Linked DNA regions of Homo sapiens: region 1 is linked to region 2. Evidence: fine-mapped expression QTL. A gene starts in region 2. The other region holds a variant in brackets. All regions are shown on one strand. Distances are from middle to middle.

Region 1 (5,371 bases), 780 kb before region 2:
GATAATGAAAGAGATGATACATAGCAACAGAAATTGGAGCAAATAATGAATTATCTGGACATGAAATCTTCCCCAAACCCTGCTTTTAAGCTTACCTGCAGTCTCAAAGTTTGAACTGATAAACAGAGCTTCTAAATCTTTTACATATACTTAGGTTAGTGTTAGAGTTGCATAACACTTAGAGGACATCTTTGCTTAAAAGGTGGTATATGAGCATAATTAGAGAGTAGATGTGTCCCCAGGAGAACTTCTAGCTCAGTTTCCTGCTTCTGGATAAGACTATGGGGGTGTGAAGTTGAGAGTTCCATAGTTCATCAGGGCATGGTTGCTCACACCTGTAATCCCAGCACTTCTGGAGGCCAAGGTGGGTGGATCACTTGAGGGTCAGAGTTCAAGACCAGCCTGGCCAATATGGCAAAACTCTGACTCTACTAAAAATAGAAAAATTAGCCAGGTGTGGTGGTGCACGCCTCTAATCCCAGCTACTCAGGAGGCTGAGCCATAAGAATCCCTTGAACCCAGGAGGTGGAAGTTGCAGTGAGCTGAGATTGTGCCACTGTGCCACTGTACTGCAGCCTGGGTGACAAAGTAAGACTCTGTCTCAAAAACAAACCCAAAAAAGAAAAAGAGTTCCCCAATTCACTGAGTTCTTAGCCCTGGAGCTCAAGCGATTTTTATTTAGAAATTCTAAAAAATATCTCCCAAACTAATTTTACTCAATGTTTTCCACATATTAACTAAGGCTAAAAGCCTTTAGCATCTATAAATCATGCTTGAATTCAAGAGGATCATTTTGTTTTTCTATTCTGAAAAGTAAAAATCTAAAATGTTACTCTTTACAGTTACAAAAGAAACATTTGTGGGCTTGCTACTATATGACCATGCATGCTTGTCTTGAGAAAGAAATATAGAATCTCTGTTTTTCAAAACTAGGAGTACTTCCATACAACAGAATAAAAAGTATCATTGAAACATCAGTGCAGTGAAAGCTTTCAAATCCTGCTCACATAGACTGCATGTTTTCTTGCCTCATTTTAGCTCTGATTTAGCTGAAGATGTACTAAATTGTGGTGTCCGGACAGAGGGCTAAAAAGTGACTGTGCTGTAGAATTGTCACCACCAACATGAGAACTCATCATATTACCATGATTTATATTTTGTTATTTCACTACTGTTTGAACTTTTAAAATATTTTACCATCTTGTTCACATGGGAGTTACTGTCAAAATATGACACTTACTTGAGGGTCACTGTGAGGTCAAAAGCAGTCGAAGAGTAGTTCTTTACTATTTCCAAGGAAAGAGAAAATCCAGATGCCTTCTTAGGTAGGAGAACATTGTACTTAAGGGTGGCCTAGAAAGGATAGCAAATTATAAGAAAACCCATCCTGTATTAAGAATTATACAGTCTGACTAGAGTCAGTAGTAATGTGATTTTACATTTTAAAATAACCAAGAGTATACTTCGATCATTGGTAACACAATGGATAAATGCTTGAGGTGAGCATACCCCACTTGCCCTGATGTGATTCTTACACGTTGCATGCCTGTATCATGCACCCGGTAAATATTTACACCTACTATGTACCCACAAAAATTAAAACATTTTTAAAAAGAAAGAGCCTATTGTTTATTTCTATTACTAACGCAGTTTACATCTTTATCATCAGGGAATCAGGTTAAATTCTTTAGTTTTCAGAATAATGTAATTTAATGAAGATAGAATACTTTCTAATAGCAATATTCCTCAAGAAACTTCTCTTAGACAGCTGAGTAGCTTTTCAAAAAGTAACTTGCAATTTTGGCTATTGATTATGTAAATACACAAAACGGTCAAATAACACTTCACGTAGAACTGAACAGACAGTCTGACTCTTTTACTGGCAAACACTCATCACCCTCTTAGGCAGATTTCTGTTACCTGGATAAATGTACAACCGTGTCCTTCCACATCTACTGTGTATTGTCCAGGTGCCTGTGTTACTTCTGAACGTTGGACCAGTAGGCGATTATGACCGTTAACCTGGAAAATCTCACTGGATCCTTCACTGCTAAAGGTGACAGTGTTTTGATCCTTAGAGAAAAGCCCCTCTTCCCCCCCTGGCTCTTAGGATCCCCATCGCAGGGCGGGGAGGCACCCACCGCGAGGCGGAGACTGAGAGCCAGTCCCTCCCACCCCCGGCTCTTAGGACCCCCATAGCAGGGTGGGGAGGCACCTCCCGCGAGGCGGGGACTGAGAGCCAGCCCCTGTTGCCCCCCTGGCTCTTAGGACCCCCATCGCAAGGGAGGGAGGCACCCCAAGCGAGGCGGGGACTGAGAGTCTGTCCCTCTTTCCCCCGTGGCTCTTGGGACAACCATCGCAGGGGTGGGAGGCACGCCGCGGGAGACGGGGACTGACAGCCAGCCCCTCTTCCTCCCTGGTTCTTAGGACCCCCATCGCAGGGGCGGAGGCACCCGCAGCGAGGCGGGGACTGAGAGAGAGCTCCTCTTCCCCCTCAGGATGTTAGGACCCCCATCGCGGGGGGGGGAGGCACTCCCGCCAGGCGGGAACTGAGAGCCAGCCCCTCTTCACCCCCTGGCTCTTAGGACAGCCATCGCAGTGGGGGGAGGCACCCCCAGCGAGGCAGGGACTGACAGCCAGCAACTCTTCCGCCCCGGGCTCTTGGGACCCCCATCGCAGG[T/G]GGGGGAGGCACACCTCGCGAGGCGGGGACTGAGAGCCAGCCCCACTTCCACCCCTGGCTTTTAGGACCCCCGTCACAGGTGGGGGAGGCACCCCCAGCGAGGCGGGGACTGAGAGCCTGCCCCTCTTCCCCCCTCCAGGCTCTTCGGACCGCCGTCGCAGTGTGGGGAGGCACCCCCTGTGAGGCGGGGACTGAGAGCCAGCCGCTCTTTCCCCCTGGCTCTTAAGACCCCCATTGCAGGGGGGAACACACCCCCCGCGAGGCGGGGACTGAGAGCCAGCCCCTCTTGCCCCCCAGGCTCTTGGGACCCCCATCGCAGGGGGGAGGAGGCACCCCCCGCGAGGTGGGGACTGAGAGCCAGCCCCTCTCCCCCACGCGGCTCTTCGGACCCCCATCGCAAGGGGGGGAGGCATCGCAAGGGGGGGAGGCATCGCAAGGGGGGGAGGCATCGCAAGGGGGGGAGGCATCGCAAGGGGGGGAGGCATCGCAAGGGGGGGAGGCATCGCAAGGGGGGGAGGCATCGCAAGGGGGGGAGGCATCGCAAGGGGGGGAGGCATCGCAAGGGGGGGAGGCATCGCAAGGGGGGGAGGCATCGCAAGGGGGGGAGGCATCGCAAGGGGGGGAGGCATCGCAAGGGGGGGAGGCATCGCAAGGGGGGGAGGCATCGCAAGGGGGGGAGGCATCGCAAGGGGGGGAGGCATCGCAAGGGGGGGAGGCATCGCAAGGGGGGGAGGCATCGCAAGGGGGGGAGGCACCCCATGCGAGGCGGGGACTGAGAACCAGCCCCTCTACCCCCCGTGGCTCTTAGGAGCCCGATCGCGGGTGAGGGAAGCACCCCCCGCGAGGCGGGGACTGAGAGCAAGCCCCTTTTCCCCCCCTGGCTCTTAGAACAACCAACGCAGAGGGGGGAGGCACCCGCTGTGAGGCATGAACTGAGAGCCAGACCCACTTCCCCCCAGCTCTTGGGATCCCCATCACAGGGGGGAGGCACCCCACATGAGGCGGGGACTGAGAGACAGCCCCTCTGCCCCTCCTGGCTATTAGGACCCCCGTCGCACAGGGGGGAGGGACCCCCCATCGCACGGGGGAGAGGGACCCCCCGCGAGGCAGGGACGGAGAGCCTGCCGCTCTTCCCCCCGTGGCTCATAGGACCCCCATCGCAGGCGCTTGGCACCCCACGCGAGGCGGGTACTGAGAGCCAGCTCCTCTTCACCCCGGGTCTCTTAGGACTGCCATCGCAGGGGGGTAGAGGTACCCCATGCAAGGCGGGGACTGAGAGTCAGCCCCTCTTCACCTCTCGCTCTTAGGCCCCCATCGCGGGGGGGGAGGCACCCCATGCGAGGCGGGGATTGAGAGCCAGCCCCACTTCCCCCCTGACTCTTGGGACCACCATCGCAGTGGGGGCAGGTACACACCGCGAGGCGGGGGGGGGGGGCAGGTACACACCGCGAGGCGGGGACAGAGTGTCAGCCCCTCTTCCCCCACTGGCTTTTGGGACCCCCATCGCGATGGGGGGAGGCACCCCCAGCGAGGCGGGGACTGACAGCCAGCAACTCTTCTGCCCCGGGCTCTTGGGACCCCCATCGCAGGGGCGGGAGGCACCCCCCGCGAGCCAGGTTCTGAGAGCCAGCCCCTCTTCCCCTCTGGCTCTTAGAACCCCCATCGCAGTGGAGGGATGCACCCCCCGCGAGGCAGAGACTGAGAGAAAGCCCCTCTTTCCCCCTGGCTCTTGGGACCCCCATCGCAGGCGGGGGAGGCACCCCCCGCGAGGCGGGGACTGAGAGGCAGCCCCTCTTCCCCACCTGGCTCTTAGGTCCCCCATCGCGGGGGGGAAGCACCCCCCACGGGGCGGGGACTGAGAGCCAGCGCCTTTCCCCCCGGGGCTATTAGGACCCCCATCGCAGGAGGGTGAGACACACCCCAGGAGGCTGGGACTGAGAGCCAGCCCCTCTCCCCCCGCTGGCTATTAAGACACCCAACGCAGGGGGTGAGGCACCCCCTACAAGGCTGGGACTGAGAGCCAGCCCCTCTTTCAACCTGGCTCTTGGCAAGGCGGGGAGGCATCCCCCCATGGCAAGGCGGGGAGGCATCCCCCCATGGCAAGGCGGGGAGGCATCCCCCCATGGCAAGGCGGGGAGGCATCCCCCCATGGCAAGGCGGGGAGGCATCCCCCCATGGCAAGGCGGGGAGGCATCCCCCCATGGCAAGGCGGGGAGGCATCCCCCCATGGCAAGGCGGGGAGGCATCCCCCCATGGCAAGGCGGGGAGGCATCCCCCCATGGCAAGGCGGGGAGGCATCCCCCCATGGCAAGGCGGGGAGGCATCCCCCCATGGCAAGGCGGGGAGGCATCCCCCCATGGCAAGGCGGGGAGGCATCCCCCCATGGCAAGGCGGGGAGGCATCCCCCCATGGCAAGGCGGGGAGGCATCCCCCCATGGCAAGGCGGGGAGGCATCCCCCCATGGCAAGGCGGGGAGGCATCCCCCCATGGCAAGGCGGGGAGGCATCCCCCCATGGCAAGGCGGGGAGGCATCCCCCCATGGCAAGGCGGGGAGGCATCCCCCCATGGCAAGGCGGGGAGGCATCCCCCCATGGCAAGGCGGGGAGGCATCCCCCATGGCAAGGGGGGGAGGCATCCCCCACGAGTCGGGGACTGCGAGCCAGCCCCTCTTCCCCCCCAGGCTCTTGGGAC
Region 2 (5,371 bases):
CTCTATTTTATTGAGGCACAGAGAGGAAAGAAATCCATAGTTGGCCACCTGACTTAGGCAAGGTCAAAAGGAGAATGATCAGTGGAACCAGAAGTAAGCAATTTGTTTGGCTACACTTGTTACACCAGTTGTATAACAATTCCCTGAAGCATAGGTGTAAAACTCTATGTACATGCACCCTCTACTGGTTCCACTCCAAGTCCTTAACTACCTGGACATAAGCTAATGATTCACAAGCTTAATGGAACTGCACAAGATTGTATAGGATTGTAATGAGACCATTTCCCTCTATCCCAGCTACCTGCCCTTCTGTACCTGTCCAAAGTGTACTTCGTTCAGTCTTCTTGTCTGAATTATCTTTCTTCTTTCATCATTCCCTATATGGAGGCTTGGTTAGGGACAGGATTCAGAGTTAAAGCTGCCCCAAGGCATAATCTCATTCATTAGGATAAAAACAAACTTTTATCTTTCCAGGGACTAATCTGGTGAGAAAAAAAAAAAGGGTAGTAATAATTCTAAGAAAGGAAAGTCACAAGGAGGTCATTAACAGAACCTATTTTGTTCAAACCTGTTTGGAAGCTGGAGGGCAAAAAGATGATGGCAATTACGTGTTAGAAAAGTGCAATGCGAGCGGGGAGTCATGTTAACCAGCAAACCTGTTTAGGCAGGTGAAGGCTGGCGTGGTTGGGAGAAAAGGTGGCCAGGCTAGCAAGGAAAAATATTCAAGAATTAGAATATCAGGAGACTAAAATGTGGTCTGGAGAGGGAATGGTATAAAAATATACAAGAGAAGCATAAAGGACAGTAATTATCCAGAATCTTGAAAGTAAAGGTCACTGGTAAACTTTAGTGAAAATCAAAATAATCTTAGCAAACACAAAAAATATCAGGACTGTTATATTCATTTTACACACATTAACTTATTTAATCTGTATAAGGCTATCAAGTAAATATTACTACTATTACCCCCATTTTATATAAAATGAAAATGAGCCAATAGAGGTCTAATAACCTGCTCCAAGATCACACAGCTCATAAGTGACAAAACCAAGTATTTAAACCCAGGTATCCTGGCTAGGCTTTAGGTCTTGGTGCTCTACTGTCTTTCTGTCAAGAAAAAGAGAAGGGAAAGTTTCATGATGGGTTCCCTACGTACAGGGCACTCATGATAGAAATATCCTATTCAAAATGCTTTCCTGTCTCTTATTTTATTTTCTCTAGGAAATAACATCTAAAGCAGGTCAAGTGGGTATTCTGCTCCTGTTGTATGAATGGGAACGTTAAGGACTGGAGGAATTACATAATAATTTAGTGGAAGGCCACCTAAAGCCCTGCTCTCCTTGTCCTATAAAATACCTTCCACCTTGCCAAGTCTTCTACTGAAATCTGGAAATCACCCTTCATCCTAACCCCAGTTGCCTAATTTAAAAAAATAAAAAATAAAAGACTGTCAGTGCTCATTTCGTCTTGAAACTGACAGATTTTAAATCACCAGTATGGTACCAGGCCATTTTCTCATTATTTGTTTTCCTTAGCTGAGAACAAAACCAGTTTATATCCTGCATTCTCATATCCCATCATCAAGCTATGTGTGAGGACCCTTAGAGTATGATCAGCTCACCCAAGAGTCTCCCTTCCACAATCACTCAGCATAATTAGATTTACTGAGCTAGAAAGGTCCTGAAAGGAGGTTTTATTCAATTCTTATGAGATAGATATATCACTGTAAACTAACTTCTACTTTTCTTATCCCAGCCTGGCCAATATGGTAAAACCTTGTCTCTACTGAAAATAGAAAAGTTAGCTGGGTGTCGTGGCAGGTGTCTATAATCCCAGCTACTCAGGAGGCTGAGGCAGGAGAATTGCTTGAACCCAGGAGGCAGAGGTTGCAGTGAGCCGAGATTGCACCACTGCCCTCCAGCCTGGTGACAGAGAGACTCTGTCTCAAATAATAATAATAATAATAATAATAATAATAATAATAATAATAATAATTTTTTTATTAAACATTTGGTATTAAGTAAAAGATCACCTACTTAAGTATAAATCATTCATACAGCATTCTTTTGTTTCTTTTAATATTTTGCTTTTTTGAGGCAGATTCTCGCTCTATCACCCAGGCTGGAGTGCAGTGGTGTGATCTCGGCTCACTGCAACTTCTGCCTTCCGGGTTCAAGTGGCCCTCCTGCTTCAGCCTCCCAAGTAGTTGGGATTACAGGTGCCTGCCATGACACACAGCTAATTTTTGTATGTTTCGTAGAGAAAGGGTTTCATCATGTTCTCCAGGCTGGTCTCAAACTCCTGGCCGAAGTTATCAGCCCGCCTTGGCCTCCCAAAGTGCTGGGATTACAGGCATGAGCCATGGCACCCGGCCACATTTGTGTCTATAGCTTTGTTTCATTGTAAGTATTCTAGGCCAGGCACGGTGGCTCACGCCTGTAATCCCAGCACTTTGGGAGGCCGAGTCGGGCGGATCATGAGGTCAGGAGATCGAGACCATTCTGGTTAACATGGTGAAACCCCGTCTCGTCTCTACTAAAAATACAAAAAAACTTAGCCGGGCGTGGTGGTGGGCGCCAGTATTCCCAGCTACTCGGGAGGCTGAGGCAGGAGAATGGCATGAACCCAGGAGGCAGAGTTTGCAGTGAGCCGAGATTGCGCCACTGCACTCCAGCCTGGGTGACAGAGCAAGACTCCGTCTCAAAAAAAAAAAAAAAAAAAGTATTCTATGCTTTTGCATGTGTGCTTGTTTTTACTCTAACCTTAGGTTTTATTTTCCTGAGTGACAAGACTTATTTCTCAATCACATCACTCCTTAACCAAAGAGAGAGAGAGAGAGAGAAAGAGAGAGAAAGAAGGAACAAAGAAAAGGCAAGAAAGAAAGAAACCTATACATTTGCTTTTTTAAAATTTGGTTTTAAAAAAATGTCTTTCTCAGTTATCTATTTCAATGGGAAGTGAAGTCAGGGAGGAGGAAGATGTCACTGATAACACCTGAAAATTCTAATCTTCCGACTTGATTTCTCATCTTCAAGTCTGTTTTCTCCAAAGATGAGATGGCTTTCCTGTTCACTTGGCAACCTCTCAGTCTTACCCCAATGCTTAGGGATATAAATGACCCAGAACCAGGAGAGTTGATTATCAACATAGTGAAGGGGAGGGTTTCAAAGAGCAAGAAGGGGTTGTTAGTCACACGGAGAGAGAAGAAAGGAGATTAGCAGGGTGACTTTCACCCTGCAACAGTCACGCTGGAGTACTCTGGTGAAGGATCAAGAATATTACCAGTTTTCTGATGAAGAAAGGAATATATTTGGTCACCAGCAATCTGCCTTTGACCATCCTCAAAGCCAAGTTTTTCATCGCTGTCTAGAAAAATACTTCATTCAGAGGACACATATGTCCTCTTTGAATGTCTCCTTTTTGGGAGCAGTAGGAGAAAGAAACTTCAAGATGTAGAAAGAATTAATAGTGTAACGGAAAGAAAGAAGGCAAAAGGAAGTAAATGTGGAGGCCATAGAAATAGTAATAAGAATAAAGAAGAAAAACAGGAAAGAAGAGGGAAAAGCCATAGAAAATAACAGCCAGAGCGAGTAGGAGGAGACAGAGAGAACGAGAGAGAGAAAAGCTGATAAATTCCTGAGAAAAGTTTCTCTTCTTAAGAATTCTAGGTCAAGAAGTAAAATATGGCACAGAGCATTGAAAGGAGGCAACGGATGCCCAGTGCAAGATTCTGAAGAAGCAGGAATTCAGCCCGATGGGAGTCCGAGTTCATGTCGTGGCGGCCTCAGCCCTGCTGTATTTCATCCTGGTGAGTTCAGTGGTGAAAAGGCAGAAAGAGTATTTTTCCCCAGATTAATCAACTCTCAGAAGAGTCTGAAAGGAAATGAACTGCGGGGTGGGGAGACATATACAGAACCCAGGGGGTCATAGGGAAATGAATAAACTACAAAGTTTCCTTAGTATTACGAGATTGCATAGATGCATGTGTGACTGATGGCAATGACAATGAAAAGGGGGACAGAAATTAGAGTGAGCATGGAAACGAGCAGGATTGCCGTGGCACTTTAGAAGTGCCGCTGAAGTATTTTATCTCTTTTAGCATCTTATCACCCATCCCTCAAAATTCCAAACAAATTATGAAAACTAGGTGTGTAATTCCCCTAAACGGAATTTCCCATCCAGGAATTTCTAATCCTGTTCTAGCAGTTTAGGTGCCTCTAGTCTAGAAATAAGAGAGGCAGGGCTCTTTTAAAATATTTTGGGCCCCACAATGAATCAGAAGTCTCTGAGTAATCCATTAGTGGAGAAAAGGGTCACTGGACTGAGGGATTCTAAACAATTGTCACAGGGAAGTTTATAGAGCTATGCCATCTAGCAAGAAGGAGAGCAAATGAAGAAAACTGGATAGTCTCAGATTCCCGTATGGCCCCCGTACAGAGTGGGCTGTATGGTTTGTTTTTTTTTTTTTTTTGCTAATAGAACAGTTAAAGTGGTATCTGAAAATCCATTTTTTCTTATATTTTCTTTTTGCTTCCTCTTCACTCCCTTTGCCTTGTCTTCCCTTCATTTTTCCTTTCTTTTCTCTTTGCAACAAGCCTGAAAAGTAGCATTTTCTCTGCTGAGCACTTTAGGCTTCTCTTACCTTTAGTGAAGAAAGTGAAAGAAAGTACCATGGTTGCGTAGAGGAAACACACGCTTTTTCATCGTTAGTGGCCATTTCTTTCCAATGAAAACACAAACACGGGTTTCTCAAATGTTACCTGCAAAGGCTGGCCATTAATCCTTTTACAGATCCTTTCCAACTGATAGGTCTTGAGAATGTGTGTCTCCTTACCCCTTCACTACCCGCCATAAACTCCCAATAGTTACAAATCTGTTTCTTTTCTAGGGCCTTTGTGGTTGCTTTCCTGAAATATCAGATCACTCAGGTTATTAGAAGACAGAAGCAACTTCTAGAATTGAGTTTACTTAAATGGTTTGTTGTTGTTGTTGTTGTTGTTTTTAAACGGAGTTTTGCCCTTGTTACCCAGGCTGGAGTGCAGTGGCACGATCTTGGCTGACTGCAACCTCCGCCTCCTGGGTTCAAGCGATTCTCTTGCCTCAGCCTCCCAAGTAGCAGGGATTGCAGGCATGCACCACCACGCCTGGCTAATTTTGTATTTTTTTAGTAGAGATGGGGTTTCACCATGTTGGTCAGGCTGATCTCGAACTCCTGACCTCAAGTGATCCACCCACCTCGGCCTCCCAAAGTGGTGGGATTGCAGGTGTGAGCCACTGCACCCAGCCTTGAATGGGTTTTTGAAAGAGGAAGTCAACTAAAAAATCAGGTAGAAGAAAGAGTGGACAGTTTTGTTTGTTTTTTTGTTTTCTG

Which allele goes with the higher level. Alleles are on the strand shown, and positions count from the first base shown. SD is a standard deviation of normalised expression in the study named.
For the expression in macrophages of the gene that starts at base 3,212 in region 2, T is the high allele of the variant in region 1 and G is the other (large effect, 1.5 SD a copy in Alasoo 2018).

Evidence for each region.
Region 1: its variant is fine-mapped to the expression of TMEM52B in macrophages (Alasoo 2018, PIP 0.95).

What each region holds. Positions count from the first base shown.
Region 1 is chr12:9,400,507-9,405,877 of GRCh38, forward strand. It overlaps LOC728715 (ovostatin homolog 2), which reads right to left. Exons shown (of 9, transcript NR_144634.1): 3 at 1,921-2,047; 4 at 1,241-1,353. Among named protein-coding and RNA genes, the nearest start is that of LINC02367, 36 kb to the left of the region's middle. RefSeq lists an enhancer at 2,412-3,053. The variant T/G (reference allele first, on the strand shown) is at 2,681.
Region 2 is chr12:10,175,821-10,181,191 of GRCh38, forward strand. TMEM52B (transmembrane protein 52B) reads left to right here and starts at 3,212. Exons shown (of 5, transcript NM_001384896.1): 1 at 3,212-3,808. The coding sequence starts at 3,755. It also overlaps a transcript of OLR1 not described here. RefSeq lists an enhancer at 3,570-4,769.